2 separate regions of the Homo sapiens genome follow, and region 2 is linked to region 1. The links come from fine-mapping of genetic effects on gene expression. A gene starts in region 1. The other region holds a variant in brackets. All regions are shown on one strand. Distances are between the middles of the regions.

Region 1 (5,372 bases):
TTATGTGATGGTTAGTGGGATTCATTTCCTCTAGGACTTTTTTGGACTGAAGTTCTCAGTTTCCAGCTGGCTATTAGCTGGATGTCACCCTCAGTTCCTTGCCATGTAGATCTTCCAAACATGGCTACTAATGAAAGCATGCAGGTCAAGACGCCAACTGAGACAGTCTGCTAGCAAGACAAAGAATCTTATGTAATGTAATCACGGAAGTGAACATCCCATTATCTTTGCCTTATCCTGTCGGTTAGAAGTGAGCCACAGTCGTGCCAGCACCTAAGGAGAGGGTAATACACAGGGCAATGGATACCAGGAGATGGGGCTCACTGTTGCACTGCCAGCTTCTCTCTCTACTAGTTATTCTTGGCCAGAAACATTTTTGTCAGAAGACTTGGAAGATGAGAAATTTTACTGCAAATCAGTCAGAGAGTCTAATTTTAAACTATCTGGCCATGGAGGGTTAGCCAGCTGTGATTTTTCCCCGGTCTGACATGGGGGTCTCTTGTGTTTTTCTGGCCCCAGTTAAGGGCCAGGCATCTTGGGCTTGTTGCAGTGGGAGCTCTGAAGTCTCCTGGTCTCCCATTGACAGTTGGAGCCAACTACAGTTGTGGTTCCTTTTCCTGGATTTTGAAGTGAATTTGAAATTGAGAATTTCTGGAACTTCAATTAAAATTTCATATAGGCTATGAATATGGGAATTAATGAAGTCTTATTTCCTCTCTGACATTTGGACAATTCCTAAAGTCCCAGGATGGCACCACCTTCTCAGTATGCAGTATCAGATAGACCCTGGGAGAGGCCGGACATATATATATAAAAATATATGTAATATATATAATATATATTGTGTATATGTAATATATATAATATATACATATATAAACATAAATATATATATGTATCTCCTGTGATGACTAGGGGAGCAGAATCATTTTTTTTTTTGCCGGGGGGAAGGAGAATGTATTAGTCTTATCAGCCTTTCAGTGTCTTGTACCAGCTCTGCTTTAAAAAGTTTATTTTTGGCCAGGCGTGGTGGCTCACGCCTGTAATCCCAGCACTTTGGGAGGCTGAGACGGGCAGATCACCTGAGGTCAGGAGTTCCAGACCAGCCTGGCCAACATGGTGAAAACCCATATCTACTAAAAATACAAAAATTAGCTGGGTGTGGTGGTGCGTGCCTGTAATCCCGGCTACTCGGGAGGCTGAGGCAGGAGAATCGCTTAAACCTGGGGAGAGGAAGTTGCAGTGAGCTGAGATCATGCCACTGCACTCCAGCCTGGGGGGCAGCATGAGACTCTGTCTCAAAAGAAAAAAAAAAAGTTTATTGTCCCCTCTGGGAGGCCATGCAGTGTAGTGGTTAGGGCCCACAAACTCTGGAGCCACAGCACTTGAGTTTGATTCATTGCTCAGCCACCCACTAGCTGTGTGACCTAGGGCAAGCGACTTAACATCCCTGTGCCTCAGTCTCTTCATCTATAAAATGGGGATGATAATAGTACCACCCTCACAGAGTTTTTGCAAGGATTATGTGAAAATGCATGTAAAGCTCTCAGAACAGTGCCAGGAACCAACAAGGGTTTGCTAGGATTCATGTGAGAAAACAAAATAACACACTAGGAAGAGAAATTTTGGGGGATGGAAATGACTGGGGTGACTTATGAAACCTGCTATTTCTAACAAAAATTCTCCATTCTTTTTGGGGGTTCTATTAAGATATAGAGCCCACCTTACCTGTGACTTCTGAGCTCTGGAGAAGGGGTTCCCTGTTTCTCAGATCTCATCACCCATTAGCACCAAAAGAGCTATGGCTGCCAGGAATGACTCAATAAACATAACACGTCCTGGCTTCTTTGACCAGACAGACCTAGGTCCTGGGGTGGGGAGGGGAAGGGGTTTCATCTTGTGTGGCTGAGCCTGTTGTAATTCTTCTAGCAGGTTTTGACAGGAGAATGGGGAGAAGTCTTGTGGACTCGGTGATTCTGAATGAGAATGAGTGAGAAGCTCTGAGTGTGGAAGGAGGGTGCAGGGACCAGGTATGCATGTATGTTTCTTGGAAGGGGGGCTGAAGCAGAAAGACAAGTTTATCCTGGCATCTAGGGTTGTCGTTAGCATTTTCTTTTCTAAATCAGTAGTAGCTCTCAGAGTGGTGTTTCTAAAGTGTTAGTGTGCAAAGGAATCACTAGGGCTGCTTGTTAAAATTACCAATCCTGAGCCTACCTCCAGAGATTCTGGTTCCACAGCAGCACTGTGGTGGGGGCCAGTGACTTTTGTGGGGGTGTCTGAGGGCTGTGGTGCCCCAGAACCTGGAAGGGCAGAGGGGCCATGATCAGGTTTCAGATCAGTGGCCAGAGGCTTTTCTGGAAGCTGTACATTTTCACAAGCACATTTTCAAAAGCCCTTGGAGAGGATGTTGATTGAGGGGAGTTTTGGGGACTGGTGGAGATTATGGGGGTGAAAAGTCCAGAGCTATCTCTTAACACCCCTACTCTCTGAGGGCCAGGCCTTGAAAGTATTGGAAATGGGAGGTGCCTTAGGTACACTGTCATTTTACAGAGGAAGACAACGAGGCCCAGAGAGGTTAAGTGGGTTGATTAAGGTCTCACAGCTAGTTAAGAGCAGCTCTGAGACGGCAACCGAAGTATTCTGGTTCCCTATCCAGTTCCCCACTCACTACACACCTGTTCCTTCTGGGGCGGGAGACCTGAGGAAGGAAAGGAGTGAGAGGAGAATGTAGTGAGAGTTGGAGAGCGTTGGGTCCACAGCCCCCAAGGGCAGGGCCACAACAAAAATGTTGTCCTGGTTGAAAAGGAGTGAGAATCAGGACAGGGAGAATTTTGGTTTGGAATTCAGTCAAACAATTGCTATTAAAATCACTAATAGAATTATCTTCCGAAGGCTAGCTGTCCTTTCCAGACGAAAAGAAATATTCCAAGTCTAAGACTTTTGCTTTCTTCCTTCCAGGGAGAATACATTCCCCCAAGGGAGCTCTGTTTCAGATTTTCTCCCTAGTAACAGACTCCCCTGCTTAGCTCTGGCCATCCCGGGTAGTGAGTGGTGCGGGGCGGGGGTGGAAGGGGGCTGGAAGCCTGGCTAGGGGGGTCTGCGGCGGCGCGGGCGGGGGCGCTGCGGGGAGGAGGGGGGCGCTGCGGGGCGGTAGTGGGGGTGCTGCGGGGCGAGGCCGCTGCGGGGCGGTGGGGGGCGCTGCGGGCGGGGGCACTGCAGCACCGCGGCCCTCGGGCGGCCGGCGCGGCCTGCTGGAGGGGGCGCTGTGGGCACCGCGCAGCGGCCTTTTGTCAGCGCGCAGGGCCAGGAGAGCTCTCATTTCCTCCCAGCCTCGTGCGGGAAATGGCTTTAATTCTGACGGCAGGGCTGTGAGGGACTAGCGGGAACCCGAGCCTTTTGTCAAGGAACTGCGGCGTCGGTGGCCAGTCATCCCCGCCGCCGCGGAGCCGCTGCACTGCTGGGGGATCTCCCAGCAGCTCTGACGAGCGCGGGCTGCAGCATGGGCAGAAAACGCTGCCCTGCAGATTAGCTGGGTGGATTTTTTAAGCGCACCCCACCCCCCAAACCCATAAAATAACAAAACCAACCCGCAGTGGCCGACCGGAGATAGCTAAGATGCCGCGCAGGAGGTAAGGGTCTGGGGAGCGGGCCTGGTGGGCTGCCTGGGGTCGCTGGTCTCCTGGCGCGGAGACCCTGGCATCCCTCGGCCGGGCGGGAGCCGCTTGGCCCAGGTGGGGCGCGTCTGTTGCCGAGCGCGTCGGTGCTGCAGCCCTGGCCGGCAGCGGTGTGTTTTGCGCCTAAAGGTTTCTGGTGATGATGTAGCATCCGAGGCTCTTAGGAAATCGGGGCTGCAAGCACTGGCCCCTGCTTGGGGATGGTGGGACCCTCGCCCGGAGCGTAACGCCTGACAGGTGGGGCTTTCTTTTGGGTCCGAATGGAGGGGCGGCAAGCCTCGCCTCGCCTAGCCGGGCGGGGCCGCTCCTCCCCTCCCCTCCCTCCCCTCCCCTCTCTTTCCTTCCCGCTCGGCCGCCGCCCTCCGGGGTAGCGGTGCGAGGCGGGCTTGGCGGGGCTGGGCGCGTCCCCCGGGGCCTCGCGATCGCTGGCTGCGCGGCGCTCAGCCGCAGTGGCCGGCCGAGCAGGTGCGGCGTCGGCAGCCGCCTACATTGAGATCGGGGCAACCGGCACGTGAGCGGGCCTCGTGGGTTTTGATTTTATGCGGCTCCACCACTTTGGAGGGAAAAATCCCACTGTACCCGAGGGGGTCTTGCCAGTCTGTTTCTTCCATCTTCCCTCTCCTCTCCCTGCCTCCCCTCCCTTTCTGCAGCCGGGGCGGAGGCCATCCCCGGTCCCGGAGGCGGGAGTCGGTGTCTGCTTATTTTTAAATCACACCACAGCCTACCTGGTGTTGGGGGGAAGGGAGGGAGGGGCAGACTGCTTTAGGATGCAGATCAGGCTCTCGGGTCTGGCCTATTGTCTTGCCTTTTCTCTTCCTTCCTTTTCTCACCCCTAATCTCCATCTCTTGCCCAAAACTAAAAATAGAAAATAGGAAATAGAAATAGAAAATAAAAAAGCAAGCTCCAGCCCACACCCTATCAAATTCTTTAAAAAACTGTCATTTATCTCTGACACATGATTAATACCCATCTGTTTCCTTACACCCACTCTTCCCTCTTGCTGTTTGTCGTCTAAGATTCAACTGACTCAGATGAGCTTTATCGATAATAGAAATCAAATCTCAGTTTCCTAAATGCACATTTCGTGCTTCCCGAGTAACCCAAAAGGAGTGGTTGGTCTGGCATCCTGGCAGAAGCAAAGGGATTGGAGAGGGTGCAAGCAACTGCTTTCATGTCTAGTTTGTGGATCTAGCTGGGATTCCTGAGATGTTTAACTTGTGCAGTGAGGGGTGTTCTCATTAATGGCATTAGAAAATTATGTTCCGTTTTAAGAGAAAAATAGCAAGTCAGCATTTGAAGTAAAAGTGTTTTAAATGAATCTGACCAAAGAAGAGAACTATGACGTTTCAGACTTGCAAATAATATCTCCATTAGCATATGAATAATATATGTTAGAGACTTAAAAGGGGGGTTTAGACCATTTAATATTTTTACTTTATAAGGTTCTACTTTAATTGTGTAATGTGATCAAACTTTTCTCTGTAGAGACTTTTCTCCTATAGATCAGGATCTTGCCCAGCCTTTCTTCCCTACTCCTCCCTGCATAGGGCACAAGTAAAAGCAAAGTTTTCATTATTGGTATGATGTCAACACATTTTGAAAAACCACTAAAGATAAATTATTCTTTGATCCAAAATCCATAAGAATTTTGTAGTAAGCCCTATGTTCTTTCTTGTCCACCAAATTGCCTAGCCTTA
Region 2 (5,372 bases), 110 kb after region 1:
CACTCACACACACTTACACAAACACATTTGTAAACGCTCACTCCCACACTCATATACCACTCACTGTCACACACACTGGTTCGCACATGCTCACACCACACACACAGACACACTCATGGCAAACAATCTCACTTGCATACTCAAACTTACACACTTACACCACACACAACCTGCCCACTCACACTTGCACACCCTCACACACCCACACACACACTTGCACACTCACACACACTTGTACACACTCACACGTGCTCACCCACACACACTCCTTTCAGTTCCCGTCGTGAGAAGAAGCTGAACCGGAAGTTGGTAAGCCGAGGTCTGCCCACCATGGTACTGTGTTCTTCAGCCTTCTTAACTGTGCAGTGGGGAGGAGAGGCATCAGATAATATTTACCTTGCTTTCTACTTTTCAGTCTGTGGTTTTACAATCTCCCTGACTCTCACCCCATCCAGGCATCTGAAAGGTTGTGTGGAAGCAAGGTTGAGTGAGAGTGGGGAGGGGGAGAAAGGGTGGCAGGAGGGTTTGGTTTCTGGGGCCTGAGTAACTCTGGCCTTGAACATTCCCGCGATCCCGACAGATTCCCAGGTGGAATAAAGACCTGGGGGCCCCAGTGGCTGCTAGAAAGGGCTGACCAGGGGTCTTCCCCTTTTGACTAACATGTCTTGGAAATATGGGGTCTGTGTTATATAAGGAATTCCACTCTCCCTCTGCCTACTGGGAAGATATTCTCCATATTTCTTGGAGTTCCTCACTGGTGTAGAAAATGAAATGGGTTTGAGGACATGTAATTTCCATGTTTTTATTGGTGAAACTAAACTGGTTACAGCAATGCTTAGATGTCTCCACCAAGCTGTACACCTCACGCCTTCTCCTTTCTCTGTGTCTGTTTCTTCTTTCTTGCCTAGAAAAACTCTGAGCTGGACCCCAGCCGGGCCTCCTGCCACTTCAGACATTAATATCCATCTAAATTCATAGACAAGAGCCCAGAGCTGCCAGCCTGCAAGGGGGTGTTCCCAGGACAGGCCACATGGAAGGTGCAGATCAGAACCCAGTCCTTCCATCTGTCTCTGGTAGCCATCCCTCAACATCAGGCTGGCCCTCCCCTCGCTCTGGATTGATTTTATAGAATTCCCTAGAAATGGTTCTGTTAGCCCCAGGTGGAAGCTGTCACCTGAATGAAATCTTACAGGTCATATCTTTTGATCTTTTTCTAGAAGGTACTAAGAAGACAGAAACAAGCAAAGCCGCCACCACAGAGCCCGAAACAACCCAGCCGGAAGGGGTGGTGGTCAACGGGAGGGAGGAGGAGCAGACGGCAGAGGAAATCCTCAGCAAAGGCCTGAGCCAGATGACCACCAGTGCTGACACGGATGTTGATACCTCTAAGGACAAAACCGAGTCGGTCACCAGCGGCCCCATGTCCCCAGAGGGCTCACCTTCCAAGTCTCCCTCAAAGAAGAAAAAGAAATTCCGAACCCCCTCCTTCCTGAAAAAGAGCAAAAAGAAGGAGAAAGTGGAGTCCTGATTCATGACACCCTTGGGCTCCCTCCTGCCTCCTCTCTCTCCTCCCCTTCCCTTCTCCCATCTCTGTCCCTGCAAGCACAGGGCTAAGGAGGGATAGAGTAGGACCCTGGACCACATTCGGAAGGGGAACTTAGAGATCACCCGACCAACCCTTCGTTTTACAGTTGCCCAAGAGAAATCAGGTGACTTGCCCAAGGTCACACAGCTAGTTAGCGGCAGAGCCTGCACTCGAATTCAGGTCTCCTGACTTCCAGTCCAGTGCTCCTTCTACTACACAACACTGCCTAGTTGTGGGCTGCCTTTGTTTGGATGCTGTCCACCAATCTGAGCCTAGGGCAAGAAGGCCAGAAATGGGCCGTGAGCTCTCACAGGCTCAGACTAAATCAGAGGTCAAGGCTTCCCCTGAGTAAGGTCCATTTCTTCCCAGGAATCCAATCTCCTGTGGATGGAGCTATCTCTACATTTAAAAATCTCTTCTCTTTTCCACTTTGGGTCCCTGCCCTGCTGCTCAAAGTGACTAGCCAAATTGACCCCTCCAACAGAAAGTAATCTTTGTTCCCAAGGGCTGATGGCTTAGCTTGTACTACCCCAAACATTAACCCTGAGCTTTCTTCATGGAACCTCTTGAATGATGGATGGAAGAGCTATAAGAGGTGGTAGGCATAGGGGCAAGCCATGTAAGCTGAGGATTGGGGATGGTTTCATCAACATAAGAGGCCAGGAACTTGACCCCTTTGAATTGTGCATCTCAGGCACTTCAAAACTAAAACCAAATTTAGCATAGGAAAAAGTTGTTTAATGCTCAGGGCAGAAATTTGGGGAAGTTGAAATCCTCTGTTGGCTTTGGGTTGTATAAGGAGGATCAAAACAACAGAGGAAATGCTGACTTTCTAGCTTTGCATGACACCTGGAGCAATGCACTGTACCTGCCTCACTCCTGTCCAGTGGTCAGGTTTCCCCTGACCTTCCCTCACCCCCAGAAACACTTGCTTACAGACCGAAACTGGCATCTTACTCTTGGCACCTTGACTTGCACCCTCTGAGGTTCCAACTCAGTCA[T/C]TCTTTGTCCAGCAGAGGAGAATCAGAAATGAGCCCTTCAGGATTAATCCTCTTGCACCAGCTCTCAGAGAAATGCTGGGTATCCCTGTCCTTGTCCCTATCTGTCCATCCTGGGGCCTGGTAATGGCCACAGTTATTGTTTTAAATGCCAACACTGTCTTCTCATGTTCTTCCGTGGGGCATTGATTAATGAGCATTTGTTGGCTCCTAAAAATTAGACAATCCATTCTCTTGAAAGCACCGTGTCTTGAAAGAATATTTTTCCTTTTGATCTGACTATCGTGAAAATATTTTTGAAAGTTCTTAATCATAGTTTTCCACTTTTGAGCACTTGCTATCTATAGACACTGTGCAGGCTTCACATACATTACATTCTTTAACCCTCACAGTAATCCTTTGAGGGGGGTAAGATCATTCCCATTTTGTGGGTGAGGAAATTGACCCCCTAAAATGATAATTGACTTGTCCCAGCTGACTTGGCTAGAAAGATCTGGATCCTGGATTTGAATCCAGGTCAGTCTGAGTCCAGAGCCCTTGCTCTTAACAGCTATGGTGAACAGACAACTTTAATCCCCAGGGGTGGTGGTTTTCATCCAGGATTTGTCTCTATGACTGTTCTCCATTGCATAATGTTAGCACGTGAAGCAAAGGTAGGGAACACCCTGTGCTCATCCTCATCACTGCACGTGAAGTTCCTGGTCAATGTGGACTGTGGTGATGCTACTGTGTGCCTCTGACAAAGGAGAGGCAAGAGCCTTCTGGTTGGGGCGGGAAATACCATCCATAGTTGGCTATTTCTTGAGAAGGAAGGAAACTGACCTAGGACCAAGGTAAACCTGACACTGTGTCTCTCTAGTGCAGATTCCTAACTGCTACCCCAGGCTCCATCTCTGTTCTACTTCCTGATTGGGTCAAATTTTAGGAGGGACAACCCACTCATGCCTCAGAAAAATCTGTCATATGGGAAATGCCTTTAAAAGCCAATCCCTTGATGCCTTCTTTTAAAAAGTAGATTTCACACTTATTCATTTATCCTTACATGGTATTTGTTAAGGATCCACTGAGCACCAGGCATTATGCTGACGTTGAAAGAGAGCCATCATTATGACTAGAATAATAAGTGGCAAACGATGTTGTGAGAATGGTGAACACGACCTCTGATGCAGCCTTTTGTGTGCGAGTTGTTCTACTTCGGGGGTGATGTTGATTGCCTCTGCATTCAACACACTCTATTCCCTTGACAATGAGGCCTCACTTAGGCCTCATTGGGTGGAGTCTTGCTGCAGCATTATTCTGGGAATTTATGCCATGGGCCCACTTTCTATTGATAGATGAACCTGTCAGTTGGTTCATTCCTCATGCATTCCAAAAACATGCATTGAGCTTGGGTCAAGGGCCAGGCATGAGGATAGGCATAGTTCCTGCCCTCAAGAAGTTCATGAGCATAGGAGGTGTATAGACAAATTGCAAAACAGGCAAGGGTACCAAGGTGGCATAAGAAAGCATCAATTAACTATCTTGGGGACCAGAGAAACCCTGAGAGAAGCAATGGCTGCTAAGGTTTTAAAACAAAGAGTAAATTTCCAGTAGAATGAAAGGATTGGCAGGGCATGCCACAATGAGGGAAGAATGTGCAAAGGTGTGGACGCATGAAATGCCATGATGGGTTCCGCTGAGCAACGTGGCATTGCCAGAGCATGATGTGGAAGCTCAGGGGTTGAGGGGTCCCTTCATAGGTAGGCAGGGCTGAATCCTAAGGAAACTGGTAGGAAGTGTGGAGGAGCTAGACTTGTCATGGAAGGGGTTTGGAGCCACTGGAGCCTTTAAATCAGGATAGAGTCATGATCAGAATTGCATTTTAGGAAAATCCCTTTGGTGGCTGAATGGAGACTGTGGACTGGATGGGCGTGGGATGGTGGCATGGGAGCTATGAGGCCTTTTTGAAATGTCAATACTAAAACATAGTTGATGGCCTGCTTTACACGATGTTTCCTCTACAGCAGATAGTGAGTTTCCAACACAAAATTTATTTCCATAAAAGTCTTTGGATAAAGCACCTTAAGAGGGATTTTCAACAAGGAGAGGGGAGCATTCAAAGAGCTAATGTTTCCAGTTTTATTTTGTCTTGGTGTAGAATTGCTGGGAGAGGTGTCCAGCCATCCTGCCATTTCTTCTTCCCTTGCACAGAATGTGGCACATTTAGCTCCAGGCTTGAGGACATGCACCAAATGCTACAGAAACAGACATGTGGTCCAAACAAATCTACAGGCTATTAGAAAGGAAAGGCCATTTTCTTTGGCTGTGGATAAAAGTTGGCTGAAAACTTTGACCAATATCTGACTGGAGAAAATGTGTATTCAAGAGCTCAGATTTGGTGGGCAGTAGGTTCATGTCTGGTTGAGCTACTGTGCTTGGATGTGCCAGAGAAAAGGGTAACATTTGAACCAATGTGCTGCTCTGTGGCTGGCTGAGCTGGGAAGTGGAGAGGTTTCTGAGCTTATTTCCATCGCAAGGCAGGCAGGAGGAGAGAGGACAAGAAGGATTAGTGGTTTCGCAGAGACAGGCTTGGCTCCAACGGCTCCTTGCGTAGTGTTGGCTGCACCCAACAGTGGTGTGAGAGAACCGTCCATACCATGTGACCTTCCTCCCAAACTGCAGAAAGAGACACCTTCTAGCCCAGATCTGGACTCCCTAAGAGCCTCCTGGCCTGCATGCAACCCAAGTAACTGTCCTACTTTGGCCAGTTGACCCCCTCCACTCTCCTATAACTAAAACAGGGTTCTTCC

What was found. PIP is the estimated chance that this variant, and not a neighbour inherited with it, causes the effect.
Region 2: its variant is fine-mapped to the expression of ADD2 in whole blood (TOPMed, PIP 0.98).

Annotation. Positions count from the first base shown.
Region 1 is chr2:70,766,143-70,771,514 of GRCh38, reverse strand. ADD2 (adducin 2) reads left to right here and starts at 3,315. Exons shown (of 16, transcript NM_001617.4): 1 at 3,315-3,629. RefSeq lists enhancers at 2,075-2,639, 3,049-3,614, 3,615-4,180.
Region 2 is chr2:70,659,581-70,664,952 of GRCh38, reverse strand. ADD2 (adducin 2) reads left to right here. Exons shown (of 16, transcript NM_001617.4): 16 at 1,218-5,372. The coding sequence ends at 1,528. Among named protein-coding and RNA genes, the nearest start is that of ADD2, 110 kb to the left of the region's middle. The variant T/C (reference allele first, on the strand shown) is at 2,587.